2 linked regions of the Homo sapiens genome follow. The protein of the gene in region 1 purifies or fractionates together with the protein of each later gene. This does not show direct contact. Each region holds a gene or a part of one and is shown in the gene's direction. Other genes may lie near its edges.

The links.
Region 2: the proteins of FHIP2B (region 1) and ZNF318 purify together in Homo sapiens (affinity purification with mass spectrometry; 3 studies listed by BioGRID and IntAct, with this or other methods). This does not show direct contact.

The regions. Positions count from the first base shown.
Region 1 is NC_000008.11:22,084,256-22,100,756, forward strand, and holds the start of FHIP2B (FHF complex subunit HOOK-interacting protein 2B), read left to right. Parts: upstream 1-4,894; 5' UTR 4,895-4,998; coding exon 4,999-5,043; intron 5,044-5,505; exon of another isoform or gene 5,506-5,599; intron 5,600-10,184; coding exon 10,185-10,263; intron 10,264-10,354; exon of another isoform or gene 10,355-10,598; intron 10,599-12,081; coding exon 12,082-12,254; intron 12,255-13,260; coding exon 13,261-13,365; intron 13,366-13,461; coding exon 13,462-13,584; intron 13,585-13,812; coding exon 13,813-14,055; intron 14,056-14,167; coding exon 14,168-14,364; intron 14,365-14,692; coding exon 14,693-14,801; intron 14,802-15,028; coding exon 15,029-15,105; intron 15,106-15,448; coding exon 15,449-15,638; intron 15,639-16,338; coding exon 16,339-16,484; intron 16,485-16,501. UniProt on the Homo sapiens protein: Able to activate MAPK/ERK and TGFB signaling pathways. May regulate the activity of genes involved in intestinal barrier function and immunoprotective inflammation. May play a role in cell proliferation.
Region 2 is NC_000006.12:43,336,805-43,352,411, reverse strand, and holds part of ZNF318 (zinc finger protein 318), read left to right. Parts: coding exon 1-35; intron 36-3,786; coding exon 3,787-4,088; intron 4,089-9,532; coding exon 9,533-9,736; intron 9,737-10,200; coding exon 10,201-10,300; intron 10,301-11,503; coding exon 11,504-11,622; intron 11,623-11,909; coding exon 11,910-15,254; 3' UTR 15,255-15,607.

The DNA.
Region 1 (16,501 bases):
TACACAAAATTAGCTGGGCATGGTGGCACACGCCTGTAATCCGAGCTACTCAGGAGGCTGAGGCATGAGAATCGCTTGAACCTGGGAGGCAGAGGTTGCAGTAGGCCGAGGTCGTGCCACTGCACTCCAGCCTGGGCTACAGAGCAAGACTCTGTCACAAAAAAACAAACAAAAAACCCACGATGGACTCTGGGGACTCAGGGGGAAAGGGTGGGAAAGGGGCGAGGGATAAAAGACTACAAATTGGGTGCAGTGTATACCGCTCGGGTGATGGGTGCACCAATATCTCACAAATCATCACTGAAGAACTTATTCATGTAACCAAACACCACCTGTTCTCCAATAACCTATGGAAAAAAAAAAAAAAAAGAAGGCTGGGCGCGGTGGCTCACCCCTGTAATCCCAGCACTCTGGGAGGCCAAGGCAGGTGGATCACCTGAGGTCAGGAGTTTGAGACCAGCCTGGCCAGCATGGTGAAAACCCATCTCTACTAAAATTAAAAAAAAAAAAAAATTAGAGCAGCTCAGACTGGAGCTCTTTGTCCCTAAAACAAAGCCTTAGGAAGAGCCTCTCAGTGCCTCCTCCCCACAACACACACATAAATAAATAAAAAATGAAAAAATTAAAGCATGAGCAAATTATTTCACATTGAGAGTCATTGACTATATGGCTTTTTTTTTTTTTTTTTTTTTGAGTCAGAGTTTCTCTCTTGTCACCCAGGCTGGAGTGCAATGGTGCAATGTCAACTCACTGCAACCTCCACCTCCTGAGTTCAAGCGATTCTCCTGCCTCAGCCTCCCAAATAGCTGGAACTACAGGTGCCCACCACCACGCCCGGCTAATTTTTTACATTTTTCGTAGAGATGGGGTTTTCACCATGCTGGCCAGGCTGGTCTCAAACTCCTACCTCAGGTGATCTGTCTGCTTTGGCCTCCCAAAGTGCTGGGATTACAGGCATGAGCCACCGCACCCAGCCATATGGCCTTCTCCTTGAATCTGGCCTTCATGCCTTGCATGTTTAAAGCAGCTTACCCGTGTTACTCGGGAGGCTGAGGCAGGAAGATCACTTGAGGTCAAGAGTTTGAGACCAGCCTGGGAAACATAGCAAGACCCCATCTAAAAAAAAAAAATGAATACATAGGGGCTGGGCGTGGTGGCTCACGTCTGTAATCCCAGCATTTTGGGAGGTCAAGGTGGGCAGATCACGAGGTCAGGAGATCCAGACCATCTTGGCTAACACGGTGAAACCCTGTCTCTACTAAAAATACAAAAAATTAGCCGGGCGTGGTGGCGGGCACCTGTAGGCCCAGCTATTTGGGAGGCTGAGGCAGGAGAATGGCGTGAACCCAGGAGGCAGAGCTTGCAGTGAACCAAGATTGTACCACTGCACTCCAGCCTGGGCGACAGAGCGAGACTCCTCAAAAAAAAAAAAAAAAAAAGAATACATAAAACTCAGTTTACCGTGAAATCATCTTCAACTCTTCATTTAAGCTGATAGGAGAGGCTTTTTTCAAAGGTCTTCCCCTAAATGGGCTAACCTGGCCTCAGAATTTAATAAAACCTCATGGTCTTTGATATTTCTGGACTATAACACATGTAGTGTGTACACTGACTTTTATTAGAGTTTTAAAAATAACATGTAAAAAGTTAAGTCGAATAAAAGGTTATGAACTCCTGATGTACTTTCATTATCCCCTAGAGTCCTCTGAGACATGCTGAAGGGAAGCAAGCTGATTTGACCTATCCAGCCTGGGTCCTTTACCTGTGAGGAGGTGGGCCTAGAAATCTGCAGAGACTGAATTGGAACTCCCACCTGTCAGAGAACTGAGGTCCCAATCAATTCTCACTCAGCCTGGGCTTGGCTGAACCCTGGCCCTCCTCAGGGCCTGAGGCCCAGACACTGGCCACCCTGGCTCAGAGTCTGGACTGCAGGCTCCACACCACAGCACAGAGCCCACTCTGGGCAGGTCAGCATTTCCTGTGCCTCAGCCCCACTGGGGAATGGGTCCTAAAAGGTGAGGCAGGTCCTGTGAAGCCCGAGACCCCAAAACTCTAGGTTCTATAATTCTGACAGGGGCTATTCTTCCTTCCCGAGGGAAACTGATTCCTTTCCCTCTCGTCATATTGAGAGGTGACAGCGTGCTGGCAGTCCTCACAGCGCTCTCGGCGCCTCCTCTGCCTGGGTTCCCACTTTGGCGGCACTTGAGGAGCCCTTCAGCCCACCGCTGCACTTTGGGAGCCCCTTTCTGGGCTGGCCAAGGCCGGAGCCGGCTCCCTCAGCTTGTAGGGAGGTGTGGAGGGAAAGGCACGAACGGGAACCGGGGCTGCGCGCGGCGATTGCGGGCCAGCTGGAGTTCCGGGTGGGCTTGGGCTTGGCGGGCCCCGCACTCGGAGCAGCCGGCCGGCCCTGCAGGCCCCGGGCAATGAGGGGCTTAGCACCCGGGCCAGCAGCTGCGGAGGGTGTACTGGGTCCCCCAGCAGTGCCAGCCCACCGGCGCTGCGCTCGATTTCTCACCGGGCCTTAGCTGCCTTCCCGCGGGGCAGCGCTCGGGACCTGAAGCCCGCCCATACCGGAGCCTCCCACCCGCTCCGTGGGCTCCTGTGCGGCCGGAGCCTCCCCGACGAGCGCCGCCCCCTGCTCCAGGGCGCCCAGTCCCATCGACCACCCAAGGGCTGAGGAGTGCGGGCGCACGGCGCGGGAGCACGGCGCGGGACTGGCAGGCAGCTCCACCTGCAGCCCCGGTGCGGGATCCACTCGGTGAAGCCAGCTGGGCTCCTGAGTCTGGTGGGGACGTGGAGAACCTTTATGTCTAGCCCAGGGATTGTAAATACACCAATGGGCACTCTGTATCTAGCTCAAGGTTTGTAAACACACCAATCAGCACCGTGTGTCTAGCTCAGGGTTTGTGAGTGCACCAATCGACACTCTGTGTCTAGCTGCTCTGGTGGGGCCTTGGAGAACCTTTGTGTCAACACTCTGCATCTAGTTAATCTGATGGGGACGTGGAGAACCTTTGTGTCTAGCTCAGGGATTGTAAACGCACCAATCAGCGCCCTGTCAAAACAGACCACTGGGCTCTACCAATCAGCAGGATGAGGGTGGGGCCAGATAAGAGAATAAAAGCAGGCTGCCCAAGGTAGCAGTGGCAACTCGCTTGGGTTCCTTTCCACACTGTGGAAGTTTTTTTCTTTCACTTTTTGCAATAAGTTGCTGCTGTTCGTTCTTTGGGTTTCCCACTGCTTTTGTGAGCTGTAACACTGACGGCAAAGGTGTGCAGCTTCACTCCTGAAGTCAGCGAGACCACGAACCCAACAGGCGGAACTAAAAACTCCAGACGCGCCGCCTTAAGAGCTGTAGCACTCACCGCGAGGGTCTGCAGCTTCACCCCTAAGCCAGCGAGACCATCGAACCCACTAGAAGGAAGAAAGTCCAAACACATCCGAACATCAGAGCAAACTCCAGACGTGCCACCTTAAGAGCTGTAACACTCCCTGCAAGGGTCTACAGCTTCATTCTTGAAGTCAGTGAGACCAATGAACCTACCAATTCCGGACACAATATGATGTCAGTGATAAGCAGAGACACTGGTTTTTGTTTCTTAGAGAGACACTATTTTGCTGTCACCCAGTCTGGACTGCAGGGGCACGATCATAGCTCATTGCAGCCTCGAACTCCTGGGTTCAAGTGATCCTCCTCCCACCTCAGTCTCCCGAGCAGCTTGGACTACAGGCACATACCACCACACCTGGTTATTTTGTATTTTTATTTTTTGTCAAGACAGGATCTTCATATGTTGCCCAGGCTGGTCAACAGCCTTGGCCTCCTAAAGTGCTAGGATTTCAGGCTTGAGCCACCACACTCAGCTGCAGACTTTTTTTTTTTTTTTTTTTTTTTTGAGACGGTCTCACTCTGTTGCCCGGGCTGGAGTGCACTGGCACGATCTTGGCTCACTGCAACCTCTGCCTCTCGGGTTCAAGTGATTCTCCCACCTTAGCCTCCACATACCACCACGCTTGGCTAATTTTTTTGTATTTTTAGTAGAGACGGGTTTTCACCATGTTGGCCAGGCTGGTCTCAAACTCCTGGCCTCAAGTGATCAAACCGCCTTGGCCTCCCAAAGTGCTGGGATTACAGGTGTGAGCCACCGCCCACAGCCCATAAACATTTTCTGATAGCCCTGTCAAAAAAGTAAAAAGCAACACGTGAAGTTAATTTTAACAATATACGTTATTTAACCCAACACACCTAATAGTCATTTCAATATGTAATCAATATAAGCCATGGTTGTTGCAGTTTCACACTTTCCTTTCTTACTGTATCTTCCAAATCGGGGTGTGCTTGGCACGGCACATCTTGGTTGGGACCAGCACATTTCAGGAGCTCATCAGCCCATGTGCCTGGGGCTGACTGAGACTTCAATTCAGGAGGAATTGTAATTTCTCTTCGAAAACACCTCCCTTAGCTCCCGCCTTAATCCCAGCTACTCAGGAGGCCCTGGCGGGAGGGTCGCTTGAGGCCAGGAGCTGGAGATCATCCTAGGCAGCACAGTGAGACCTCCCCTCCCAGTAAAAAAACAAAAAAAAAAAACAATTGGCCAGGCGTGGTGGCGCGCGCCTGTGGACCCAGCTACTCTGGAGGCCGGGGTTGGAGGATCGCATGAGTCCAGGAGTTGGAGGCTGCAATGAGCAGAGATCGCGCCACTACACTCCAGCCTGGGCGACCAAGCGAGACCCTGTCTCGGAAGAAAGGAAAGAAAAAAAAAAAAAAAAAAAACACCTCCCAGCCAACTCTCAGGGCCCACCGCTGGCGGTTCCCAGCCCGACTGGGCGCCCCCAGCCGGGGTTAGCCAGCGCCACGCAGCCGGGCCGGGAAGGGGCGGAGCGGCCGGGCCCCGCCCCCCTCGTCGCGCCGGGGCCGCCGGGGCCACGGGGCTGCCTCCTCCGCCTAGAGCGCTGCCGCCGCCGCTTTCGCCCGGGAGCCGGGGGCCGGGCGCCATCATGCTGAGCCGGCTCGGGGCGCTGCTGCAGGAAGCCGTGGGGGCGGTGAGGCCGGCAGGGCCGGGCCGGGCCGCCGGGAGTCGCGGGCCTAGGCCGGGCTGGGCGGGCGCGGAGCCGGGCGCGGCCCGCAGGAGGGCGGGCGGGCGCGGGCCCCCTCGGGCAGGGACCCCCGGGCCGCGGCGCCCCTTCCTCTGCCTCCCCGGCCGCGCCCCGCTTCCCCTCGCTCTTCCCAGTCCCGCTCCCAGACTCCTCCCGACCGCCCCACCTCCCCGGCCTGCTCCCGCGTCGCTTCCTGTCTGTGCGTCCTGGCCCCGGAGTCTCTCCCAATTCCCGAACTCGCCTCCGCCGGGACGCTCCCTGTCACCGCTTGGGGTGTTTCCTGCCCCCCGGGGCCCTAGGCCGCCTCCCCCCAGTCCCGGTGGGCCTGCCTCCTTCCTCCGCTCCACCCCACCGCCTCGCCTGGGCTTGAAAAAATCGCCGTCCCTTCCCCTCGGTCTGATCTCCCAGACAACTCCAGGACCTTGTTGGGGTGCAGGACGCCCTTCCCGTCACCCCGGGACGTGGGAAGTGCAGGCCCTGCCGGTCCAAGTCCCCACGAAGGGTAAAGACCCGGGGCAGGCTGGTGGGCCCCCAGCCGGGGAAATCGCCTTCTATTGGGTGCAGATGTTTCCAGCGTGGCTGTGACCCCTCACAAGCCAAATTGAGTTAGGGACATGCCGCCCGTGGTGGGGCCTGGGTGGCCCTGTGCGGGGAGGAGAGTCCATTGATGTTTCACGTGCCGTCAGTTTGTGTTTTTGCCATTTTTTGTTGGGGCTGCAGGCTGGCAGGCAGCCTACTACTAGGGTTCGTTCAGCAAGATGTAGCGCTGTGTAGGAAGGGTGGGGGTATTCCCGGTAGGGTGGGGGGGGTGCCCGCTGTTGAAAGTAACTCTGCCAAGAAGCTGTCTGTAAAGTCAGCAATACTTCTGCCTCCTAGTATAAATCTTCCCCCAATTGATGAGTTGAGTATCAGATTTTCTCAGGAGAGAAAGTCTTGGGTTTCACCCTCCTTCCTCCCCACCACCTCCTCCCCAACCCTCATGGGAGCTCCTGTTGAAAGAAGTTTGCCTTAGGCAAAGTTGGGAAGAAAGTCAGAAACTATGACTTCCTCCACCTTCCCAGCCCTGCTGTTGACCCAGGGCCAGGGCCTTGGGGCATCCAGGTAGAGAGGGTTCCAAAATGATTTTTCTTCCCCTTCCCCCATCCCCAGTCAAAACAGCTGTGATCTTCAAAAGTGATCTGATAAACCAATTCATACCTCTGGGGAACACTCCATTTACAGGAGGTGAGACAGGCCAGACAGTTCCTCAGTCCTGAGGAGTGAATTTCTTTCTTTTTCTTTTCTTTTTATTATTTATTTATTTATTTCTGAGCCCAGGCTAGACTACAGTGGTGCGATCTCCGCTCATTGCAGCCTCCACCTCCTGGGCTCAAGCAATCCTCCCACCTCAGCCTCCTGAGTAGCTGGGACTACAGGCATGCGGCACCACGCCAGGCTAATTTTTGTATTTTTTGTAGAGACAGGGTTTCAACATGTTGCCCAGGCTGGTCTTGAGCTCCTGGCCTCAAGCGATCCTTAGCCTCCCAAAGTGGTGGGATTACAGGCATGAGCCACCGCACCCGGCTAGGAGTCAAATTCTAAGGCTTCCAATGACAGAAGTACAGGCATCAGTGGCAGGAGATTTTGGCAGTGGAGGGAGATCTTTTTAGGCAGGTGATCTTCCGGGCCCTTTAGTATTGACCATATAGGCTATGTCCGGGCGGTGTGGTTGGCCCTACAGGGAGACGGGAATTCCTCTTTTGTGCTCTACCCTCAGGTCGCCAGTCTAGGTCTTTCCCAAGCCTTGGTCACCAAGTGTGATCCTAGTAAGTCAACTGATTACTCATTGAGTAGGAAGACTGCTCCTTCCCGCCCTCTTCTGATCTAACAGATTAGGAATCATTACAGCTTTTTTTTTTTTTTTTTTTTTTTTTTTTTAAGATGGAGTCTTCCACTGTCACCCAGGCTGGAGTGCAGTGGGGCGATCTCAGCTGACTGCAACCTCCACCTCAAGTGGTTCTCCTGCCTCAGCCTCCTGAGTAGCTGGGACTACAGGGCTGCGCCACCACGCCCAGCTAATATTTGTAATTTTAGTAGAGATGAGGTTTCGCCATGTTGGCCAGGCTGGTCTCGAACTCCTGACCTTAAGTGATCCACCTGCCTTGGCCTCCCAAAGTGCTAGGATTACAGGTGTGAGCCACCACCATGTCTGGCCACTAATAATATCGTTAAAGAGAAATTGTTGGGTCTAGTGCCTTTGGTTTGGAGTTATCATAGCTGGTGGTGGAGTTAGGTAAAGATCACACACCTGTGTCACCAGCTCTCTAATGGCCTGTGCTGGTTAACCTGCCTCTCCCGTGTCTCCTGCCGTACTGGAGTATTCTTTTTGGTTAAAGCCCAGCTCAAGGTTTTCAAAGACTATAAGCCAATTTTGAGGCTAAAGGAGACCCCATCACAGAAATTATGAGATAATTGTAGGGCTGGTGAAGGGCCAGAGGACTTTCTAAAACAAGGAACTAGGGAAAGAATCTCTCCAGGAGTTTCCTGAGATATCTGGTAAATATTCATGGGTATTCACTATGTGCTGAGCCCATTGAGGGCAGGCTAGCTGTAAAACACAGAACCCTGGCTCTCAGGGAGCTCATCATCTAGCAGAAGAGATGATTGCTCAGCACAGCAGGCACTGTCACATAGAATGTAGTGAGATGCGGTCACTGCACAGGGATGGAATATTTGGAATAACTGTGGGTGGTGCTACTTTTGAGAAGGGTTGCAGCCCCTACCAACTAGCTTTGCAAGAAGACAAGATGCCCTGCGGACTGAGGGGAGTTTCCAGTTCTGTGAATGTCATCCCTCCCTCCCCATGTTGCAGTGGCCTTCTAAGCATATTCTTCCTGCCTTTACCTCCTCTCCCAAGGCCAACTGCCAGATGAGTCTTCCGAAAACACTGCTCAGAAGGTGCCAATGGCCGGGTGTGGTGGCTCATGCCTGTAATCCCAGCACTTTGGGAGGCCCAGGTGGGCGGACCACTTGAGGTCAGGAGTTTGAGACCAGCCTGGCCAACATGGTGAAACCCCGTCTCTACTAAAAATACAAAAATCAGCCAGGCGTGGTGGCACATGTCTGTAATCCCAGCAACTTGGGAGGCAGGAGAATCACTTGAACCCAGGAAGCGGAGGTTACAGTGAGCTGAGATGGTGCCACTGCACTCTAGCCTCAGTGACGGTGAGACTCTTTTTTTTTTTTTTTGAGACTCTGTCTCAGAAGAAAAAAAAAAAGTTGTCATTGACCTGCTCCCTGCTGCCTGCAAAAAATGACTGAGACTTCTTGGCTTGGCATTAGAGACTCCGAAGTCTCGCCAGCCCACCCCTTCCCCAGGCACACTTTGCAGAGTTCCTTCTGCAGGGACTGTCTTCCTTCTCTTGTTGATATTGACCTGGTTCTTCAAGTTTTAGTTGAGATGTGATCTTGGTAAAGCCTTCCCTGTTCCAGCCTGTTAGAAGTTACCCCTGTTTTTCTGAGAGGTCACTACTTTCCACCTCTCCTGCGGCCTCACACTACTTCCTTGTAGCTTCGTTATTCAATGCGGTTTTATATCGTCTTCTCCATGACACATTTCTTGAGGACTAGGTGTTAGTCATCCTCATGTTGCTTGTGGCATCTAGCATAGTGTCTTGTACATAGTGGGCACTTAGAATGAACAAATGATTTCATGAGTGGCTACTCAGTTCTGTGGTGCAGTAAAGTGTGAGGTCAGAGAGGTGTGGGCAGGCAGGGACACTGGAGAGGGCTTGGTGGAGCTGCTGGGGACTGAACCTCACTGGGGACTTTCACGATCCAGACAGTTAGTGGGATACAGAGCACCTTGGGCAGAGGAGTGGCCCCAGCAAAGACCTAGAGGCAGAAATGCACAGCTGTGGGGAGGGATGATTAGAATTCTTTTTTTCCTGAAAACATTTACTCTGCAAGAAAAGCGAAGGAATGGTGTTGTTGTTGTTGTTGTTGTTGTTTTTGAGAAGTTTTCAGGGAAAGTGATTGTTCTCAGTGCAAGGCCAGTATCAGCCATGGTGTAGAGATGGAGAGAGCACTCATGGAAAAGGGGGAGGTTAGGGGCTTGCCCAGAGCAGAACCAGAATTTTCCAGGGCTTGATAGAAGGAGCCGGTAGAGGAGGAAACGAGAACAGCACTGGCTGAGGAGTTGGGGTTGTGCAGGCTCAGGCTTTGGACACAAGATGAAAGCATGTAAGCATGTTATAAGGAAGGCACATTGTTAATATCATGCTAATGTTACCTACCCTTCCGGCTGAACAGAGCCTGTGGTGGTCTTGAACAGATTTTCATAGACTCTCAGATTGAGAGGAATGGAAAAGCTTTGTCTTTTTTTTTTTTTTTTTTTTTTTTTTGAGATAGGGTCTCACCTTGTCACCTAGGCTGGAGTGCAGCGCTGCGATCACAATTCACTGAAGCCTTGACCTCCCTGGGCTCAGGTGATCCTCGCACCCCAGCCTCCCAAGTAGCTGGGACTATAGGCAGACACCACCACGTCCTGCTAGTTTTTAAATTGTTTATAGAGACAGAGCTTCATCATGTTGCCGAGGCTGGTTTAAACTCCTGGACTCGAGCCGTCTGCCCACCTTTGCCTCACAAACTGTTGGGCTTACAGGCGTGAGCCACTGCACCTGACCTTTGCCACATTTTCGATCTGTATCATTTTGCTTTTCTTTGGGGGACTGCGCTCCCGTGTTCCTCTATGTGCCTCTACTGTAGCGTAACCATGCTGTGTTGAAATAATCTGTGTCTGTTTCCCCCAGCAACATTCTTAGCACCTCCAGGACAGAGACAGGACAGGATTGTGACATACAGCAAGAAAACAGCATTTCCAGGAGGGAGGGGTATCTAGGGAGAAGTGCCTGTCAGGAGATCCTTGGCAAGATGACAGTGTGTCCTGGAGGAAATGTGTTATTCCTCCCTTTGAAAGCCAGGGAGCAGGGTGCCTCCTCATGAGGAGGCCTAGCATGAACCTGACACTCAGAATATCTGTTCCCATGCGGGCAGGGGCTCCCTGGCCTTTGTGGCCCCCACTGAGGTTGTGTGTCTGCCCTCCGCAGCGCGAGCCCAGCATTGACCTGCTGCAGGCCTTCGTGGAGCACTGGAAGGGCATCACGCACTACTACATCGAGAGCACAGGTGCGGCCTGGCCCTCCCCAGCCCAGGGACCCTGGAGGGAGCGGGGAGGAAGGAGTGTGCAGAGTGTCACCATTCAGGTGTCCTGGGAAAGGTAACCTGCCCAGTCGTTCAGAATTGGAGCCGAGTTCACGGAGACAGAGAACCAGACAGACAGAAGACCCAGAGCCCTGGGCCACTCCACTCCTGATGATTTAGCTGCCGGTCCCACTCTGACCTTTTGGAAAGAGGCTGTGTGAGGAAGGAGTAGCCTGGTTGGGGGTCTCACTGGCCTGACTCTGCAAGGAAGAGGTGGCTGCACTTCCCCCAGCTTCCAGCTCCAGACCTTCAGGCCCCAGGTGCTTGTGCCTAGGATTTAATGATCAAAAGAAAAGAATTTAATAAATTCCCCTTTCCCCTGAGCCAGCTTAGGGGCAATGTCCTTGTAGAGATCTGGGGTAGGAGGAGAACGAAAACCAAGGTGGGTAACATGCCTGGGTCCCTCTCTCCAAGCTGACACCCCAAAGAGCCAAAGCCTTGGCACCTGGTCCCATCAGGACCGCTCACTGAGGGGATGGCATCTGAGTGGCTGCTCTGCAGTCATGAGGCTGCCATGGGTGGATACGGACTGGTTGCCAGGTAACCATATCCTGCATCCCTCACTTTTCCCTTCCTGGAGTTCATACTGGGGCTTGATCCCAGCCCACACCTTTCCTACAGGCTTTCTTTCCAGCCCGGGCCAGCCCAGGAAATTCAGAAATCTGTGGGACCCTCTGAGGGTTCTGCTAGACCAGGTTTCTCAATCTTGGCACAGTTGGCATTGGACCTGGAGCCTTCCCTGCGCGGGGCTGTCCTGGGCGGTGTGGGATGTGCAGCAGTAATTCTGGCCTCTACCCACTAGGTGCCAGTAGCACACCCCACCCCCGAATTGGGACAACCAGGAAGGTCTCCAGACATTGCCTCATGTTCCCTGGGGGGGAAAAGCGCACCCCTGGTTCTGAACCTATCTCTTCAGGTTAAAGATCTCTTGAAGGAGAGCCTCAGTCCACCAGCTCAGTAAGATCAGATCAGAACTGGCTGAAATTCACCTGGGGCTTCCCCCATCCAGCCCTTTCATTTCCAGAATGGTCCCTAGACCAGAAGGGTTGGAAGTGCGTGGGGCAGGCCGCCCTACTCAAGCTCCTGTTCCTTAAAGGAAAGCTAGGGGGTGCTCCAAGTCTAGCCCTGAAGCACCAGAACTTTCTTTAAAACACACACTGAGACTCTGACTGCAAAAGCCCCCACTAAGTAGCTTCCCCGTCAGGGCGTTGGTACAGGGAGCAGGACTGGGTCAGACCTGAAGGTGGTGGCACAGATGTTTTTTTCTGCTTTGTGAAAAACAGAGGCTTGCCTTCTCTGAGTGTCAGTGGGGGAGGCCCCAGGAGGTTCTCTCTCAGGCAGCTGCTGGAATTACAGCTTCTAAGTTATGTGACAAGAGCCCTGAGCCCACAGTGTCCACTCAGGCCCAGAGCTGACAGCAGCCTTCTGTGGGCCCAGGACCATGTGTCCCTGTCTCTGTACCCATCCTAGGGTTTGAAGGAAACCGATGCTGCTGCCCCCTGATAAAGGGCTGGGCATGCATGCGTTCTCAGAGGACTGTGTCCTGAGCCTGGAAGGACTTTTGTCTTCTTAAATATTGAAGCATTCACTGTAAACTTCCATTTCCCAGTTGCCAGCAGCTGTCTTCCCCCACCTCTCCCAGACAGGACCTCCCCTTTCTGGGCTTTGGCAGGAGAGGGTGAAGTTTTCAAGCCGGGGTGCCCCTCTTTACCCTACTCACCCTTGTTTCCCAAACATCATTAGATGAAAGCACCCCCGCCAAGAAGACAGACATTCCCTGGCGGCTGAAGCAGATGCTGGATATCCTGGTGTATGAAGAGCAGCAGCAGGCGGCCGCGGGTGAGGCAGGGCCCTGCCTGGAGTACCTGCTGCAGCACAAGATCCTGGAGACTCTCTGCACGCTGGGCAAGGCCGAGGTGGGAGGCCCTCTGCGCGCTGGGCCAGGCCGAGGTGGGAGGCCTCTGCGCGCTTGGCCAGGCCGAGGTGGGAGGCCTCTGTGCGCTGGGCCAGGCCGAGGTGGGAGACCCTCTGAGTGCTGGGCCAGGCTGAGGTGGGCGGTGGGCAGTGGGCAGCCTGGGGCTCCCTGGATTCCAGGCCTTTCTGCCTATGCTCTTCCCAGTCCTGACACTGAAAGTGGCAGTTCGGGCGAGAGGAGCAAACAGGACGGGCACTGTGGCTGTCTCACTTAGAACACTCCACCATCCCAGCGCTCCTGTTCCCAGTTCACTCCACAAAGATGGGCCTGCCATGTGCCAGGCTCTGCTCTAGATGCTGGGGACACAGCAGGGATTCATACTGACAAGAGCCAGGCATGGTGATGCGTGCCTGTAGCCCCAGCTACGTGGGAGGCCGAGGTGGGTGGATTGCTTGAGCCCAGGAGATGGAGGCTGCAGTGAACTGTTATCGTGAGACCGCACTCCTGCCTAGGAGGCAGAGCAAGACACTGTCTCTTAAAAAAAGGAAAGAAAACTCGACAAGAATCCTAGTGGGAGAGGCAGGACCATCCTGTGATGGGTCAATAATGACCCAGTCATGGAGCACAGTGATGCAGGAAAAGGGGTTGTGAGTGCCAGGAAGGCTAGTTTCGAACAACGTGGCAAGGGAAGCAGGCCTGTGAGAACGGGCCCTCTGAGCCGGAACTGAGGGAGGAGTTGAGCCTGGGGCTCTCTGGGGGTGCAGTGTTCCAGGTGGGGGACACAGCTCTGACAGGCGCTCTGTCCCTGGCCTCAGTACCCCCCAGGCATGCGGCAGGCAGGGGACACGGCTCTGACAGGCGCTCTGTCCCTGGCCTCAGTACCCCCCAGGCATGCGGCAGGCAGGGGACACGGCTCTGACAGGCGCTCTGTCCCTGGCCTCAGTACCCGCCAGGCATGCGGCAGGCAGGGGACACGGCTCTGACAGGCGCTCTGTCCCTGGCCTCAGTACCCCCCAGGCATGCGGCAGCAGGTGTTCCAGTTCTTCAGCAAGGTTCTGGCGCAGGTGCAGCACCCCCTGCTGCATTACCTCAGCGTCCACAGGCCTGTGCAGGTGAGGGGCCCGGAAGCCAAGGGGTGTCTGGGTGTGAGGCCCCCTCTCTCCCCTGCCACCCCTCTCCCCTCTGTTTCTGTCCTGGTGCTCTTCCAGAAACTCCTCCGACTTGGTGGGACTGCTTCCGGATCCGTTACAGAAAAGGAGGAGGTGCAGTTCACCACCGTCCTCTGCTCCAAGATCCAGCAGGACCCAGAGCTGCTCGCCTACATCCTGGAAGTGAGCACTCTGATCGGGAACAGGAGGGGGAGGGCCCAGAACCCCAGGGCAAGCCCCCTCTGCCCTCCTGAGGAGGCAGAAGCAGAGATCAGGTACCCGGGAGGCACGCAGGCAGCTTCCCCTCCAGCTCCAGGCCGACGCCCTGCTGGCAGCCCACCCTGCGGTCCCAGTGGGGGACCCTGGGAAGTGGTCCCCACCAGGTCTGGCCTCATCTCACCCTCTTTTCAGGGTAAAAAGATTGTAGGTAGGAAGAAAGCATGCGGAGAACCCACTGCCCTGCCTAAGGACACAACCAGCCACGGGGACAAGGACTGCTCCCACGATGGTGCTCCTGCCAGGCCCCAGCTGGACGGGGAGTCCTGTGGGGCCCAGGCCTTGAACAGCCACATGCCTGCTGAGACCGAGGAGCTGGACGGTGGGACCACAGAGAGCAACCTGATTACCTCCCTGCTTGGGCTGTGCCAGAGCAAGGTGCTGGCAGCAGAGATGGAGAGGTTGGGGGTGGGGGAAGGGTGGGTTGACGGCTGGGGGGTGATTTGGGGGCTCACATGCATGTCCCTGAAGTTGTATCCTCATCCCCTAGAAGAGTCGGGTGGCCTTGAAGGCCCAGGAGAACCTGCTGCTCCTGGTGAGCATGGCCTCCCCAGCAGCTGCCACCTACCTGGTACAGAGCAGCGCCTGCTGCCCTGCGATCGTCCGGCACCTTTGCCAGTTGTACCGGTCCATGCCTGTCTTCCTGGACCCCGCAGACATTGCCACCTTAGAGGGCATCAGCTGGAGGTGGGTGCCCAGCCCGGGAAGGCCGGCCAGCATCTTCAGTTGCTGGCAGCCCTGCCTGTCTTTGGTGGCCAGCTCCCCTGGGGTTCCACGTTGCTAGGGACCCCTGCTGGCCACCCTCTCCCCAAGGCTGCAGCTGATCCCCAGGGGACTTCTTGCCCTCCAGGGAAGTACTGGTTTTGCTGCCTCTGTCCATAAAACCCCCAAGATAACTGATCCCCAGCCACAGAGGTTCCACAGGAGAGGGGAAGGGCCCAGTTTCAGGACACATTGAGGAAGACCTTGAAGCTCCTTCTCCACTCTCTGAGACTTCACTCCCCTCTTCCTTCAGGTTACCCAGTGCCCCGTCTGATGAGGCTTCCTTCCCTGGCAAGGAGGCCTTGGCTGCCTTCTTGGGCTGGTTTGATTACTGCGACCACCTCATCACAGAGGCACACACGGTGAGCAGGGGCGGGCGGAGGCCGGGCTCTCATGCTGTTCCCTGTACCATCTCCATCTCGAGGACCAAGTGGAGCAGGGACATGGAAACATGGGGTCCAGGAGCTAAGCGGGGCCCCAGGCGGGCCGGGACCCTCTCCTGTGGCATCAGGCGCCGCGCAAGAACACGGTTATTTCTCAGCTGGAATTGTAATGAGGGCAAAACACATTGGCGCTCTCTGGCACCCAGGTGGTTGCGGACGCCTTGGCGAAGGCTGTGGCTGAGAACTTCTTCGTGGAGACCCTGCAGCCCCAGCTCCTGCACGTGTAAGTGTCTAGTTCCCTCAGGCATGACTGTGGTCTACAGTAAACCACCTACCCCACCCAGCCTCGTCCTGTCCCTAAGGCCAGACACCTTCTTGACCAGAATCCCATTTGTGGACCCCATTGGGTGATGTTTGCCAGGCCTGCCCCATGATGTGCACGTGGCTCTGAGCTACGTGGGCTAAACGAAGGCCTCCTACCCTTCCCTGCAGGACCTCAGCAGGGATGGGCAAGTGACCACAGACATACCAGCCAAACATGCGAGGCAAGCAGGAAGGGTTCGGCCACCCGCACTCATGTGCTGTCTGCACACACCGGGCCTGGCTAAGGTGCCCTCTTCCCGTAGGTCCGAGCAGAGCATCTTGACCTCCACCGCCCTCCTCACAGCCATGCTGCGCCAGCTTCGCTCCCCTGCGCTGCTGCGGGAGGCCGTGGCTTTCCTCCTGGGCACAGACCGGCAGCCTGAAGCCCCCGGGGACAACCCCCACACCCTGTATGCTCATCTCATCGGGCATTGTGACCACCTCTCTGATGAGGTACAGTGGGGGACCTCCATCTCTGTTCCTCTCACCACCCCTGCCAGAGGGATTTCCTGAACACTCTTCCCATTTCATTAGTGTTCCCAGTTGACTCCACCTTTGAGACACTGAACTGCAAAACACTGCCGAGCCACTTTTATCACACACTAATTTTCTATGATCATATACTTTTTTTTTTTTTTTTTAAAGAGACAGGGTATTGCTCTATCACCCAGGCCCTGGAGTGCAGAGGTGTGATCATAACTCACTGCAGTCTCCAACTCCTGGCCTCAAGCGATCCTCTCACCTCAGCCTCCTAAAGTGCTGGGACTGCAGGCATGAGCCACTGTTCCCAGCTTATTTTTTTACAGTATTTTATATTTTGCACACTTGGCTCGCTGGAAGGCTAACACGTACTACTTCGTGAGGTAGGCGAGGTTGATACTCCCATTTCTCAGACATGGAAAGTAAGGCACGGAGAAGCGAATTGGCTTGCCTGAAATTGCACATCAAATTAGTCACATACCAGGGACCACCCAGACTTCTGGATTCCTAGGCCCACACCCCCCAACTACCCCCAAAACCTGCCACCTTAGCATCCAGCCAAGGGAGGTGACTCTGCCTCAGAGGTCTTTTCTTATCTGGGTTAGCCATGCCAAGGCACCCCTGGGAGCTGGGTGGGGAAGGGGCTATCCTGCCGACCCCCTTCCTGCTCCAGATCAGCATCACCACACTCCGGCTGTTTGAGGAGCTGCTGCAGAAGCCCCACGAGGGGATCATCCACAGCCTGGTCCTGCGCAACCTTGAGGGCCGCCCTTACGTGGCCTGGGGCTCACCAGAGCCTGAGAGCTATGAGGACACCCTGTAAGTGAAACCGGCGC
Region 2 (15,607 bases), on another chromosome or scaffold:
TAGGACCGAGTTAGAGCGGCTTCATAAACAACAAGGTATCAGCTGCTTTGCATGACTGCCTTTTTGTAATAACTTGCGTAGGAGACCCAAATTTGGTACTCTCACACAGGTTCAGTAACCTGAAACTTCATTAAAAATTTTTTTTTGACGTAATTAAACTTACAAAAAAGTTGCAATAATAGTGCAAAGAATTCTCAGGTACTCTTCTCCCAGATGATGGTGGTGGTGATGATGATGATGATGATGATGATGATGATGATGATGATTTGAGACGAAGTTTTGCTCTTTCACCCAGGCTGGAGTGAAGTGGTGTGATTTTGGCTCACTACAACCTCTGTCCCCCGGGTTCAAGTGATTCTCCTGCCTCAGCCTCCCAAGTAGCTGAGATTACAGGCACCTGCCACCATGCCCAGCTAATTTTTTTCGTATTTGTAGTAGAGATGGGGTTTCACCATGTTGACCAGTTTGGTCTCGAACTCCTCACCTCAGGTGATCCACCCGCCTTAGCCTCCCAAAGTGCTAGGATTACAGGCGTGAGCTCCCACACCCTGCCAGATTATTAACATTTTAATACGCTTGCTCTATCTTTTTCTCTCTCTCAATTTGTGTGTATGTGTGTGTGTAATTTTTCCTGAACTTTTTTTTTTTTTTGAGATGGAGCCTCGCTCTGTTGCCCAGGCTGGAGTGCAGTGGTGCAGTCTTGGCTCACTGCAACCTCTGCCTTCTGGATTCAAGTGATTCTCAAGCCTCAGCCTCCCAAGTAGCTGGGATTACAGGTGTGTGCCACCACACCTGGCTAATTTTTGTAATTTTAGTAGCAATGGGGTTTCATCATTTTGTCCAGGCTGGTCTCAAACTCCTGGCCTCAAGCAATCCTCCTTCCTCGGCCTCCCAGAGTGCTGAGATTACAGGCATGAGTCACTGCACTGGCCTTTTCTGAACTTTTTAAAGTAACTTGTAGATGTGATGTTCCTTTACTCCTAAATACTTAAGTATTTCCTAACAACAAAGAAGGTACATAACTTTAATACACTTATCAAAATTAGGATATTAGCAGTGATACAGTACTATTATCCAGTCTACCATTCTTACTCATATTTCACATTGTCCCGTTAATGCCCTTTATAGCAAAACAAAGTGCAAGATTATTTATCACATTCAGTTTTCACGTTCCTGTACTCTTCTTTAATCTGAGTGTTTGTATTTCATAACATTAACATTCTGGAAGATAAGAGGTCACATATTTTGTAGAATATCCCTTAATTTTGATTTGTCTGTTTCCTTATGATTAAATTCAGGTTATTCATTTTTGGCGAGACTATCACAGAAATGATGCTGAGTTTGTATCAGGTGTTGATTTGTCCCATTGCTGGTGATGTTAACTTTAATTATTTGGTTAAGGTGGTGTCTGCCAGATTTCTCCACTATAAAGTTACTGTTTTATCCTTTTTAATTAATATGAATCTTATAGAGGAGATACTTTGAGACTATGTAAATATTCAGTTACTCCTCAGACTTTCACCCACTGGTTTTAGCATCCATTGATGAGTCTTGCCTGAGCCAGTTATTATGATAATAGTTATTTAAAAATTTTTTTTGAGACAGGGTCTCGCTGTGTCACCCAGGCTGAAGTGCAGTGGCAGTGGCATGATCTCAGCTCACTGCAGCCTCGCTTCCTGGCTCAGGTGATCCTCCTGAGTAGCTGAGACCATAGGCATGAGCCACCACGCCTGGCTAATTTTTTTTTTTGGCTAGAGACAAGGTTTTGCCATGTTGCCAAGGCTGGTCTCAAAACTCCTGAGCTCTGCAGCCTCCCAAAGTGCTAGGATTACAGGCATGAGCCACTGTGCCTGGCCTGTGATGGTTATCAAATAGTGATTTTTCAAGGTTCCTCATTCCTTCTAGCTTTATTAGTTGGCTTTCCACTGTAAGAGGGAACTTCCTAACCCTCACTCCCATTTGTTTATTCATTTATATGAGTATGAATTCATGGATTCTTCATTTGATAAGTTATAATCTTTTATTATCATTATTTATTTTCATGCTCAAATTGTTCCAAATTTGGCCAATGGGACCCCCTGTGAGTTAGCTCCTGTGTCCTTTCAATATGTCTCCATCGTTTTTGAGTACTTTCTTTTTTTCTTCTTTTTCTTTCTTTCTTTGAGATGGAGCCTCGCTCTGTTGCCCAGGCTAGAGTGCAGTGATGCAATCTCAGCTCACTGCAACCTCCACCTTCCAGGTGCAAGTAATTCTCCTGCCTCAACCTCCCAAGTAGCTGGGATTACAGGCGTGTGCCACCATGCCCAGCTAATTTTTGTATTTTTAGTAGAGACGGGGTTTCACCCTGTTGGCCAGGTTGGTCTCTAACTCCTGACCTCAGGTGATCCGCCTGCCTCGACCTCCCAAAGTGCTGGGATTATAGGTGTGAGCCACCCCACCCGGCCTTTTTTTCTTTTTTTTTAAGAGACAGGGTCTCATTCTGTTGTTCAGGCTGGAGGGCAGTGGTGCTGTCATAGCTCACTGTAGCTTTGAATTTCTGGACTCAAATGATCCTCCCATCTCAGCCTCCCAAAGCACTGGGATTACAGGCATGAACCACAGTGTCTGGTCTTTCCTTAAATTTGGCACACACACACAAAAATGTTCCCTGATGCCTTCCTTTTTATTCCATTTCTTTATGCTTTTAGGAATTCACATACACAGTGAGGAAAAGAACATAACAAGGCTCCTAAATACTGATAGTATGAAAGAACAGAGAGTGGGAGAAGATATAATTGCTTCTGTCTGGGTTTGGACTGTTTAGGGATGAGAAATTGAGTTATTTATCCTGTGAGGATTAACACCAGAGGATCTGCAGTTTGGAACAGGAGATAACATTAAAAAAGCCAGCTGGGTGTGGTGGCTCACACCTGTATCCCAGCACTTTCAGAGGCTGAAGCAGGCAGATCACTTTGAGCTCAGGAGTTCAAGACCAGCCTGGTGACATGGCAAAACCCCATCTCTACCAAAAAAAAAAAAAAAAAAAGATAAACCAGAGGCAAAACCTAAAACTCATTGAAGAAGTTGTTAAAGTGTCCTTAGATCAGATAAAGTCAAATATATTACCCTCTAAATAATTCTTCAGCCCTCTGAAGAGAGGACAACTGCTAAATTCATAGTTACAACACTTATTAATGTTTTTGAGAGACACACACAAAATTATATATACTGTTATGGGAGTTCATGGAGCCCCTGAAGCCTGTCCATAAATCCTTAGCTAATAACCTTTACACAAAAGATAATGTCATAACCCATTCTTTACCTTCATAGAAGCTTCACTTACACCAACCCATGTGGAAGGAGAGTCTCACTTGCTCTTAGAAAAAAAAATTGTTTTTTGAGACGGAGTCTCTCACTATCACCCAGGCTTGAGTGCAATGGCATGATCTTGGCTCACTGCAAGCTCCGCCCCCTGAGTTCAAGCAATTCTCCTGCCTCAGCCTCCCGGGTAAATAGAATTACAGGCGCCCACCCCCATGCCCGGCTAATTTTTTGTATTTTTAGTAGAGACGGGGTTTCACCATGTTAGTGAGGCTGGTCTCGAGCACCTGAACTCAAGTAGTCACCCGCCTTGGTCTCCCAAAGTGCTGGAATTACAGGCATGAGCCACCACGCCTAGCCACTCTTAGAAACGTTTGTGGGCAAAGACTTTGTAACCATAAAGCCCTGACAAATTATTGCTTGTAAATGAGAAATGACTCGTCTTATTTTCCCTGTGCTTCTTTTTGTTGACATTTGATTGCTCAGGAGAAATGCTGCGCAAGAAACGAAGGGAGAAGGATGGCCACAAAGATCCTCTCTTGGTGGAGGTGAGTCGGCTTCAGGATAACATTATGAAGGACATTGCAGAGCTACGGCAAGAGGCAGAAGAGGCAGAAAAGAAGCAATCTGAACTGGACAAAGTGGCTCAGATCTTGGGAATTAACATCTTCGATAAATCCCAGAAGTCTTTAAGTGACAGTAGAGAGCCTACAGAGAAGCCTGGGAAAGCAGAAAAATCTAAGAGCCCAGAAAAAGTGTCATCGTTCTCAAACTCCTCCTCCAACAAGGTAACAACTCAATTTTTCCATTTCTATCATCTTTTTTTTCCCTTAGACTCCTATGGTTTTCTAACCATTTTCTTAACTTAGGTTTTCAAACTGTTCTTACTCTTGTTAATTATTTTCTTACAGTATAGATCAGAGTGTGGTACTCCTCTTCAGAATTTCAGCATAGTTCCTTGTTGCCCACAAAGAATCCTAAATCCTCAGTATTCAGAACCTTCTATGTTCTTGTTCCAGCATTTACTCCCTAACCCACTCCTATCTGGCTTCTGATCTTCTCAGAACTTGTATATACCCTTTTGGGGGGTTCATATTTAGCAACTATGTTCATGTCTAGGTCACTACTGTGTTGCTAAAGTCAGTAAATACATTTTACTTCTCAAATGAGCAGCATTTGAGGCCAAGAATCACTTTCTCCTACAAATACTCTTTTCCCTTGGCTTCTGTCACACTTCTTTTCCTCGTAGTACATTGGATGCTCCTGCTTAGTATCCTTTGCTGTCTCTCTTGCATAATCTTTAAATTTTTGAGTTTCTCGGGGCTCAGTCCTTGCCAGAATTTGCTCTTTCTTCCTAGGCCATTTCATCCAGTCCTATGCTAAAATGCCATGTGACAATTGCCAGTTTTATGTTCTAGTCAAATGAGTCTTCTGAGTGTCTAACAACGTAACTCACCATTTCCACTTCATTATCTCATAGGCACTTGAAATTGAGCATGTCCTAAACTAAATTAATGGTTGTGCTCAACCTCCTTCCAACTTTTTCTTTCTCCATTGTTATGCATTCTCAATGAATGGCATACTGTCCGACAGTTTTCATGCCAACAACTTAAAAGTCACTCTCAGTGCTCTGCTTTCCCTAACTGCTCCATATGCAATCAATTACAAATTCTGTCAGGTCCCTCTCCAAAGTAAATCTCGATTCCATGCACCTTATCATCTCCATTGACATTCAAGTCCAAGCCACATCAGTTTTTGCTTATGTTGCTGTGTTAATTAACTCTTTTTGCACATATAGCCAGTGATCATGATACTTAATCCCTTGCCTACCTCCTCAACCTCATTTCATGCCTCTTTCCTTCTTGCTGACTGTAGTTTCATTACTAACCTTTTCATTCCTCAAATGTATCATCTCCTCTCGTGACCTCACATTTTCTGTTCCCTTTCTTTACCATGCAAATCGAACTCTTTCCTTATCTACTCTTCTAACTCCAATTCATCCTTTAGATTGGATCTTAAATTACTTCCCTGACATCCTTCTCTGATTCCCTAGACTGTTAAATTTGCCTGATATACACTCCCATAATATCTTGTAATTTTCCTTCTTAACATTTATGACAGATCTGATTTTATAATTAAATGTGTTCCCCTAATTTGATTTTAAGGTTCAAAAGTTACAGGGACTTTATATGTGTCATTGTTCAATATGATTCCCAATATATAGCCCAGGGCCCAGCACATAGTAATGAATACTGCTGAAGAAACATTATATTACATCTTACGCTGCGTCACCTCAAAATGCAATTTTCCGGATGTGCAATATCTGGTATTACACCTCTCTGGTTTTGCATAAATAATCCTATTAGCCTGGAATAATCTTTCTCCCAACCCCACTCACCCATTAAAGCCCAATTTGGATACCACCTCTTCCATGAAGAATTTCCAGAATTCCACCCAGATCTAGTCAGCCTTCTTTAGCACTCTGTAATTTGTTTCTTTGTAAAATTTATTTCGTTGTCTTATTTAAAGACTCTTCTTACGTCTGTCTCCACTAAATGAGAGCTGCTTTTTTTTTTTTTTTTTTTTTGGTTAAAGATGGGGTCTTGCTATATTGCCCAGGCTGGTCTTTTGAGACAGAGTTCTTGCTCTGTCACCCAGACTGGAGTGCAGTGGCGCAATCTCGGCTCATTGCAACCTCCGCCTCCCAGGTTCAAGCAATTCTTCTGCCTCAGCCTGCCGAGTAGCTGAGATTACAGGCACGTGCCACCACGCCCGGCTAATTTTTATATTTTTAGTAGAGACATGGTTTCACCATATTGGCCAGGCTGGTCTCAAACTCCTGACCTCGTGATCCGGCCTCCCAAAGGGCTAGGATTACAGGCGTGAACCACCCTGCCCAGCATTTTTTTTTTTTTTTTTTTTTTTTTTTTGAAACAGAGTCTTATTCTGTGGCGTGTGGCGTGATCTTCGCTCACTGCAACCTCTGTCTTCTGGGCAATTCTCCTACCTCAGCCTCCTGAGTAGCTGGAGTTACAGGCGTGTGCCACCACACCCAGCTAATTTTTGTATTTTTAGTAGAGACGGTTTCACCATGTTGGCCAGGCTGGTCTCGAACTCCTGACCTCAGGTAATCCACCTGCCCCCGCCTCCCAAAGTGCTGGGATTACAGGCATGAGCCACTGCGCCCGTCCCCAGGCTGGTGTTGAACTCCTAGGCTCAAGTGATGATCCTCCCGCCTCAGCCTCCCAAAGTGCTAGTATTACAGATGTGAGCCACCCCACCTGGCCCGAGAGGATAAAAGAGGAATCTTTTTTATCTTTGTGTTTCCCATTGCATACAATATGTCTAGCACATAGTACATCCTCAGTTAATATTGAGAGGTAGGAAAGAGAATATATTCTGTGTTATCACCCAAGCTCTATTTTTTTCCATGTCTTCCTAGGAGAGTTTTCTTTCTCAACCAGGTAGGCCTAGTCTTTTATACCTGGGTCTTCAGTCTAGGTAGGGCCTTTGATGGGAGAAGAATTTAAAAGCTCTGGTCCTTTGTAATTGACTTATACATTGGATTTCTATTCATGTACGAACCCAATGATAATCTGTCATCTTGATTTGGGTGCGTCTTCATGGTCTCTGAAACTAACGGATATGTTACAATTCAGTTTTCATCTCAGCAGTAAGGAATATTATGTCCACAGCCTTTCTTTCCTACCTGTCCTTGGTATTTCTTCTTTCTTTACCTCTCTTTAAAATGTATAGTTGGTTTGAGATTTTCTTTCCCTTTCTGTTCATTTCAGAAAAGCACATACAAACTTGTAATTTCATCTACCTAGAGACAACTGTTATTATTACTTTTTTTTTTTTTTTTTGAGACAGGGTCTCACTCTGTCACCTAAGTTGAGTGCAGTGACACAGTCATGGCTCACTGCAGCCTCCAACTCTCAGGTCCAAGCATTCCTCCCACTTCAGGCTCCCCAGTAGCTGGGACTACAGGTGCTCACCACCACCACACTTGGCTAATTTTTGTATTTTTGTAGAGTTGAGGTTTCGCCATGTTTCCAAGGCTGGTCCCGAACTCCTAAGCTCAAGTAATCTGCCCACCTCAGCCTCCCAAAGTGCTGGCATTACAGGCATGAGCCACTGGGCCCAGCCGAGACCACTGTTATTAATACCTTGGTGTATAATATTATTAATACCTTGGTGTATGTTATTCCAAATACATACACCAAGGTATTATTATATATTCCAAATACATTAATTTATTATTAATACCTTGGTGTATGTTATTCCAAATACATACACCAAAGTATTAATTCTGTCCATCAATTCACTTAACAAATATGTATTGGTCACCAATAAAGTGTCAGGAACTGGTCTAGATATGGGAAGTATCACACTGAACAGTATAGACAAGGTTCATATTCTCATTAAATAGCAGAAGATGATAAATAAATAAGTCCATGTTAGGTAATGAGAAGTGCCTAAAAAAAGAAAACAGGATAAGGAGTATAGAGTGGTTAGAGAAAGTATTTTGGATAAAGTGATATTCAACGCTGTATGCCGATTTACATATCTTTGTTGATTATTCAAGTGTATTTTATTAGTTTTCTCAGTATATCATGAACATCTTTCCATGTCAGTAAATACACTTCTATAATACCATTTTTAACAACCTTATTTTTTGTTGTTTTGGTTGCATGGTTAAGCAAAATTTATTTAACCAATCAAATCACCTGTTGTTTGACATGATAATTTCCATAGGATAAATGTCAAGGAGTGAATTGCTGGGTTAAAGGGTATACAGTATTTTGAGGTATGTAATGTATTCCTAGATTATCTTCTAGAAGATGGTGCCAGTTAATACTCCCACCAGGAGTGTATGAACTCTCCCATCCCCTGCCTGTCTGGTGTGATTTCTTTAGTGATTCTTGAATAGGACTCAGGTAGGGAAAGAGTATCTTTGAAGCCCCAATTGTTTCCCTTTCTGTATCCTACCTTTTTCCCTGCGTGAGCCAATATTCCAGGTACCCAGCTCTTCATCTTGTGTACTATAGAACCCCATTCATAGTGAGCCTCTGAGTTGCAAAAATTATCTTTTTTTCCTGTGCCTTACTCCTGAACATTAACCAAAATTCTCATTTCCTGAGTGCCTTGTTCCAGCTTGGTAATAAATTAATTCATATTAAAGTATTTGCTGTTGATAACTTTAATATTAAGAAGTTGATATATTTTTAAAAAGGATACATGTTAACGGTGTTAAAATTTTTTTTTTTTTTTTTTTTTTTTTGAGACAGGGTCTCACTTGTTGCTGAGGCTGGAGTGCAGTGGCACAATCTTATCTTACTGCAACCTCCGCCTCCTGGGTTCAAGTGATTCTCGTGCCTCAACCTCCCGAGTAGCTGGGAATACAGGTGCACACCACCATGCCCGGGTAATTTTTGTATTTTTAGTAGAGATGGGGTTTCACCATGTTGGCCAGGCCTGTCTCGAACTCCTGGCCTCAAGTGATCTGCCCACCTCGACCTCCCAAAGTGATGGGATTACAGGTGTGAGCCACTGCACCTGGCCTCTAAAGTTGTTAAATTCTAAAAGTGATATTTTAGGCAGTTAGGAATGTTTTTCCTAGATTCCTTTAAATCATTCTACATAGATGACTTTATCTATGTGTAGTTGTATAGTCTACTTTATCTATGTACACCAACCCTTCTCTCCAGTTTTTCATACCAGGATGCATGTGATGAGTTCACTATCACCTATTTTCTGCATTTGCTTTGCTTAGCCTGTCAATTACCTTTTCCATATTGGTTTTTCTTCCCTCCCTAGCTGTCATGATTTTCAAATTTAACTGTTTAGTTGCATAGGTAACATATTCAACATTTACTAAAGGGTATACAGTGAAGAGACTCCTACCCATCCTTGTTCTCCACTTCCCTTCCCCAGAGGCAGCCAATGTTTCCACAACCTTGGCTGTTCTTCTAGAGATATTTTAGGATATGTAAGTAAATATATTGCCATTATGATTTACTTTTTATGCTGTGATAGCACTATGAAGTCAAATAGTTCTATGTCTTAGAGACATGTTTCTGTTAGGGTTCCCCCCAACTTGTGCAGCTTTAAACATTGGAAATATGGTCATATGGCCCTATTTCTATTATTATGGCCACTTACTATTTCTAACAGAAGACAAGTCTAGATTGCCTTGAATTCCTTGTAAGTACAGATTTTTCCCCTCTAGGAATCAAAAGTAAACAATGAGAAGTTTCGTACTAAGAGCCCCAAGCCTGCCGAAAGCCCCCAGTCAGCCACTAAGCAGTTGGATCAGCCCACTGCTGCTTATGAGTATTATGATGCTGGCAATCACTGGTGCAAAGACTGCAACACCATCTGTGGGACCATGTTTGATTTCTTCACTCATATGCACAATAAGAAGCACACACAGGTTGGTATCCTACTCTCTGTTATTTTCACTCCCACCCTCACTCTCTTCAAACTTCTATACCCCTATCTGCATTGCAAAGCTGGAAAAGGAAACATTCTCATATGGGCAGGAGCCCCAGTCTGAAGAGCCAAGAGACACCAACAAAGGAGACACCATCCCCAGGGCTCAGTCCAGGGGACTTGGCTGTAACTAAACACCATGACAAGTGTAAGTGAGGTTTCTGCCTCTTTTGATTCCTTGAGTACCTGATTTTTTTGTTTCATTTTACCTTTTTCTGGTACTTGCTCTAACATGTGTTTACCTTTTCCACAGGTGATTTCCATTAAAACAGTTGGCAGAGGGGGTGGGGGTGGGTAGCTGGGGGCTTCTGGTCCCCTGGTCTTATTATGGGGGAAAAAAAAGAGAAAAGTGGGTCATTGAGCTTTTAGTGCTGTTGTGTGAGCACCTCTGCCTCTTACAAATAGACACTGGATCCCTACAACAGACCTTGGGCTTCAAAGACCCAGAGTGAGGCCAAGCAAGATGCCATAAAGCGCACTGACAAGATAACTGTTCCTGCAAAAGGTATGTTTCCTTTTTGCCACCTTTGTGGTTTCCTTACATTCAGTTGAGGAAGAGGTGTCCCTGAACTAACATTGTAGGAAGCAGCATAGCATGAGACAGCCATTCCTTTTAACAAAGCCGTAGGAATGCCTTCTGTGTACAAAACAGTGTACTAGGTCCTGAAGCTATAAAGAGATCTATAAGACCATGATCTCTACCCATATGGCCAAAAATCTATTCACAGATGTTAAACATAGACATGTCACTTAAAACAGAATTGTCTTTGTCATTGGCTTATGGGCCCAAAATCTTACTTGTTTGGAATCCAGGTTAAAAAGGACAGGAGATGCAGTAATTTAACTGCCTTTTCAACTAAGAACTATACAATATTTTGAGTCATTGTTATTAAGGGGTAAGTGGAGAAGCAGAAACTTCCTTTGTCTTTAAACTTCTCAATTTCTTTTTTTTTTTTTTTTTTCCTCTGAGATGGGGTCTCTCTCTGTTGCCCAGGCTGGAGTGCAGTGGTGCTATCTCTGCTCACTGCAAGCCCCGCCTCCCGGGTTCACCCCATTCTCCTGCCTCAGCCTCCCAAGTAGCTGGGACTACAGGCGCCTGCCACCATGCCTTGTATTTTTTGTATTTTTAGTAGAGACGGGGTTTCACTGTGTTAGCCAGGATGGTCTCGATCTCCTGACCTCGTGATCTGCCCACCTCTGCCTCCCAAAGTGCTGGGATTACAGGCATGAGCCACTGTGCTCAGCCCATAAACTTTTCAATTTCTTACCTTCACAAGTAGCTAGTGCTGCTACTATACCCTTGAGATTTACAGAAGATAGTTTCCTCAGTAATTAATACCAACATGAGAGATCATCATAAAATGGTAATGGGCTATTTGGGAGTATAGTTTTTATATTTCCTGAGATGCTTGGTGCTAGTTAGGGTTTGAGGAGACTCAGCAACAGGAATTAATCTGGCACAGGAAACTCCTAAATTAACCAGTATAATGTTCCCAAGAGGTAGAAGAAATAGAGGACTGTAGTTCAAGCCTTAGGTTGGAAAGACTGTGCCATTGGGATTCATCTAAATACTGCTTCTGACTTCAAAGTGGGTAAGGCCCTCTATACTGTAACCATTTTACTGCAAAGGGGTGGTGGGATTTCCATTGGTTGCTGTCATTCTGGGTGGAATCGACTTATTTCCTTGACTTTTTTCTACTTCTTCCAGGCTCTGAGTTTCTGGTTCCCATCAGTGGATTTTATTGCCAGCTCTGTGAGGAATTTTTGGGGGATCCAATTTCTGGGGAGCAACATGTGAAGGGTCACCAACACAATGAGAAATACAAGGTTGGTCTTTGTAGTAGGCTGTGGAGTTTCCAACTTTTCTGAAGTAATTATTTTGACTTTGTCAAATGGCGTCCGAGCCAGAAAAAGCCATTGACACTTCAAATTCCATATAACCTCTAAGTTCTCCTCAATCCTAGTGGGAGATGCTCAGCAGATAGCATCCCGTATGTCCTTGAGGAAGATAATTCTGGGGATTTCTACTAAATGAATTCTAACAGTAGCGGGGCCAAGATTTTTTTCTCTTGTATTTTCACCAGTTTTTGAGTCTTTATCTTTTTTCTTCCCAGAAATATGTGGATGAAAACCCATTATATGAGGAGCGGCGGAATCTGGACCGCCAAGCTGGCTTGGCTGTGGTCCTAGAGACAGAACGGCGACGGCAGAGTGAGCTAAAGCGCAAACTTAGTGAGAAACCAAAGGAGGAGAAGAAAGAAAAAAAGGCAAAGGCTGTGAAAGAAGTAAAGGAGGATGACAAGGTCTCTGAGAAATTAGAAGACCAACTCTCTGAGGGTAGGAACTCCCCTGAAAAAGCTGAAAATAAAAGGAACACTGGCATCAAACTCCAGTTAAAAGAAGAGGTAAAGAAGGAATCACCAACATCATCTTCTTTTGGGAAATTCAGCTGGAAGAAGCCAGAAAAAGAAGAGGAGAAAAGTTCATTGGTGACCCCAAGTATCTCTAAAGAAGAGATTCTAGAAAGTAGTAAGGACAAAGAGGATGGCAAAACTGAAGCTGGGAAGGCAAAGCCTATCAAAATCAAGCTCTCTGGGAAAACTGTTGTTGCACATACCAGCCCTTGGATGCCTGTTGTGACAACTTCCACACAGACTAAGATCCGACCCAACCTGCCTATTCCATCCACAGTACTCCGCAAGTCATGTTCAGCCACAATGAGCAAGCCAGCTCCTCTTAACACCTTTCTGTCTATTAAGTCCTCTGGAACCACTGCTAAACCTCTGCCAGTGGTTAAAGAGTCTTCAGCTGATCTCCTCTTACCTCCAGACATCATCTCCAAAGCATTTGGAGGGGAAGAGGTGATTCTAAAAGGGTCTCCAGAGGAAAAAGTGGTGTTGGCTGAAAAGAGTGAGCCATCTCATTTACCTGAACAAATACTACCACCTCCTCCACCACCCCCACCTCCACCACCTCCACCACCCCCCGTTATACCTCATCCAGCTGCCCCGTCTGCTGCTCAAGCAAATGCTATCTTGGCTCCAGTAAAATCAAACCCAGTTGTATCTCAGACTCTCAGCCCTGGCTTCGTGGGTCCTAACATTTTGAACCCAGTGTTGCCTGTAGCCATCATGGCCTCAGCACAGCCAGCTGCCATTCCTTCTGATGAGACAGCTCCTGGGGTGAGTGAGAGTGACCGAGACCAGACCCTGTTCTCTGTGTTAGTACGTCCTCCACCACCCCTCTCAAGTGTGTTCAGTGAACAAGCCAAAAAATTAGAGAAGCGAAATTCATGCTTAGCCACAGCCAATGCTAAGGACCTGTATGACATATTCTATAGTAGTGGTGGAAAGGGGGCCCCTGAGACTAAGGGGGCCCCTGAGACTAAGCTAAGTGGTGGTCCATTGGCCAATGGGGAAAATAGCAACCTCTCTAGAACCAAAAGTTCAGACACCTCTTCTACTTCTCCTTTGAACAGCAGTGCATCCCAAGAGGAGTTGCATCAAGATGAGGGTTTGGTCGCTGCTCCTATAGTTAGCAACTCTGAAAAGCCCATTGCAAAAACTCTGGTGGCCCTAGGGAAATGGTCAGTTGTAGAACATGTAGGCCCAAAAAGCACAGGCAGCACCTATGGCTTCCTACAGCCTCTGACAAGGTTGTGCCAAAGCAGGCCTTATGAAACAATTACCCCAAAGACAGACACTTTGGCCATATGGACCTCTAGTTCCTTCCAGAGTGACACTAGTAGGGATATATCTCCAGAGAAGAGTGAGCTTGACCTGGGAGAGCCAGGACCACCTGGTGTAGAACCACCTCCTCAACTGTTAGATATACAGTGCAAAGAATCTCAGAAGTTGGTAGAAATCCACCTCAGAGAATCTGTTAACCAGGATAAGGAAAGCCAAGAGCTCCGTAAATCTGAGGATTGTAGAGAAAGTGAGATAGAGACAAACACTGAACTAAAAGAAAGGGTAAAGGAGCTGTCTGAGGGGATAGTTGATGAGGGAGTAAGTACCAGCATTGGACCCCACAGCATAGATGATTCTAATTTGAACCATGGAAACAGATACATGTGGGAGGGAGAAGTAAAACAGCCCAACTTGCTAATGATTGACAAAGAGGCTGAACAGTCCAATAAATTGATGACAGGAAGTGAAACTCCAAGTAAAGTAGTGATCAAATTGAGTCCACAGGCTTGCTCTTTCACAAAGGCAAAATTAGACTCATTTTTATCAGAAGCTAGGTCTTTACTCAACCCACAAGATACACCTGTGAAAATTTCTGCCCCAGAGTTGCTGCTTCATTCCCCAGCCAGATCAGCTATGTGTTTAACAGGTAGTCCACAAGAGCAAGGAGTTTCAGTTGTTAGTGAGGAGGGGCTAGAGAATTCAGCTCCAGAATCAGCTTCTAGAACTTCTAGGTACAGAAGTCTCAAACTCAAGAGAGAAAGATCAAAAGACTTTCAAGTTAAAAAGATCTATGAGTTGGCTGTTTGGGATGAAAACAAGAAGAGGCCAGAGACCTGGGAGAGCCCAGAGAAACCAAAAACAGAAGCACTGGAGCTACAAGATGTCCATCCAGAGTTAACAGTGACAATAGAAAGCAAGGCCCTAGAAGACTTTGAAGCTACAGACTTAAAGGTAGAGGAGCTTACTGCCCTGGGGAATCTGGGGGATATGCCTGTTGATTTCTGCACTACTCGGGTAAGCCCAGCACATAGATCCCCAACTGTCTTGTGTCAGAAAGTGTGTGAAGAAAATTCTGTATCACCTATAGGGTGTAATTCCTCCGATCCCGCTGACTTCGAACCAATCCCATCTTTTTCTGGGTTTCCGTTAGATTCTCCCAAAACCTTGGTGCTTGACTTTGAGACAGAGGGTGAACGAAACTCACCTAATCCCAGGAGTGTTAGGATCCCTTCTCCTAACATTTTGAAAACTGGACTTACAGAAAATGTTGACCGTGGCTTGGGGGGCCTAGAGGGAACACACCAGGCCCTTGACCTGTTAGCAGGAGGAATGATGCCTGAGGAAGTAAAAGAATCTTCCCAATTAGACAAACAAGAGTCACTCGGATTGGAATTAAAAACAATTAATTCTGCAGGCCTTGGGCCATCTCCTTGCCTTCCAGACCTTGTTGACTTTGTCACACGGACCTCTGGAGTTCAAAAAGATAAACTGTGTTCTCCACTCTCTGAGCCAGGTGACCCTTCTAAATGTAGTTCCCTGGAGTTGGGGCCATTACAGCTAGAAATATCGAATGCATCCACCACAGAGGTGGCAATTCTGCAAGTAGATGATGACAGTGGCGACCCTCTGAATTTGGTTAAAGCTCCAGTGTCAAGGTCCCCTCCAAGGGAGCAGGTAATTGAAGACAATATGGTCCCTCAGGGAATGCCTGAACAGGAAACTACAGTTGGTGCCATCCAGGACCACACAGAATCCAGTGTTCACAACTAAGAATAAATACCTAGAGCTACTTGTGAGTGAATCATTGGCTTCTAGAAATCAGATGCCCAGATGATCCAAGACTAGTTTGTTATCTCATCTGGAACCTACACCAAGAGATGCAGTCAGCATCTTAAAGTAAATGTTCATGGAAGCTAAAAAATTTACCTCCTTTCCTTTTCCCTTTCCCCTTAAAACACCAGACAAATCGATAACAACTTATATATATATATATATATCTGTAAAAATGTATTTTGTTAATTTTTTTGGCCAATTTATTTTCTCCCACTTTGTCATTAAAATCACATGTCTAACTGGCTCACCACATAGTGTGCTTTGATTGTATTTTGGCTTTGACTCTGCCA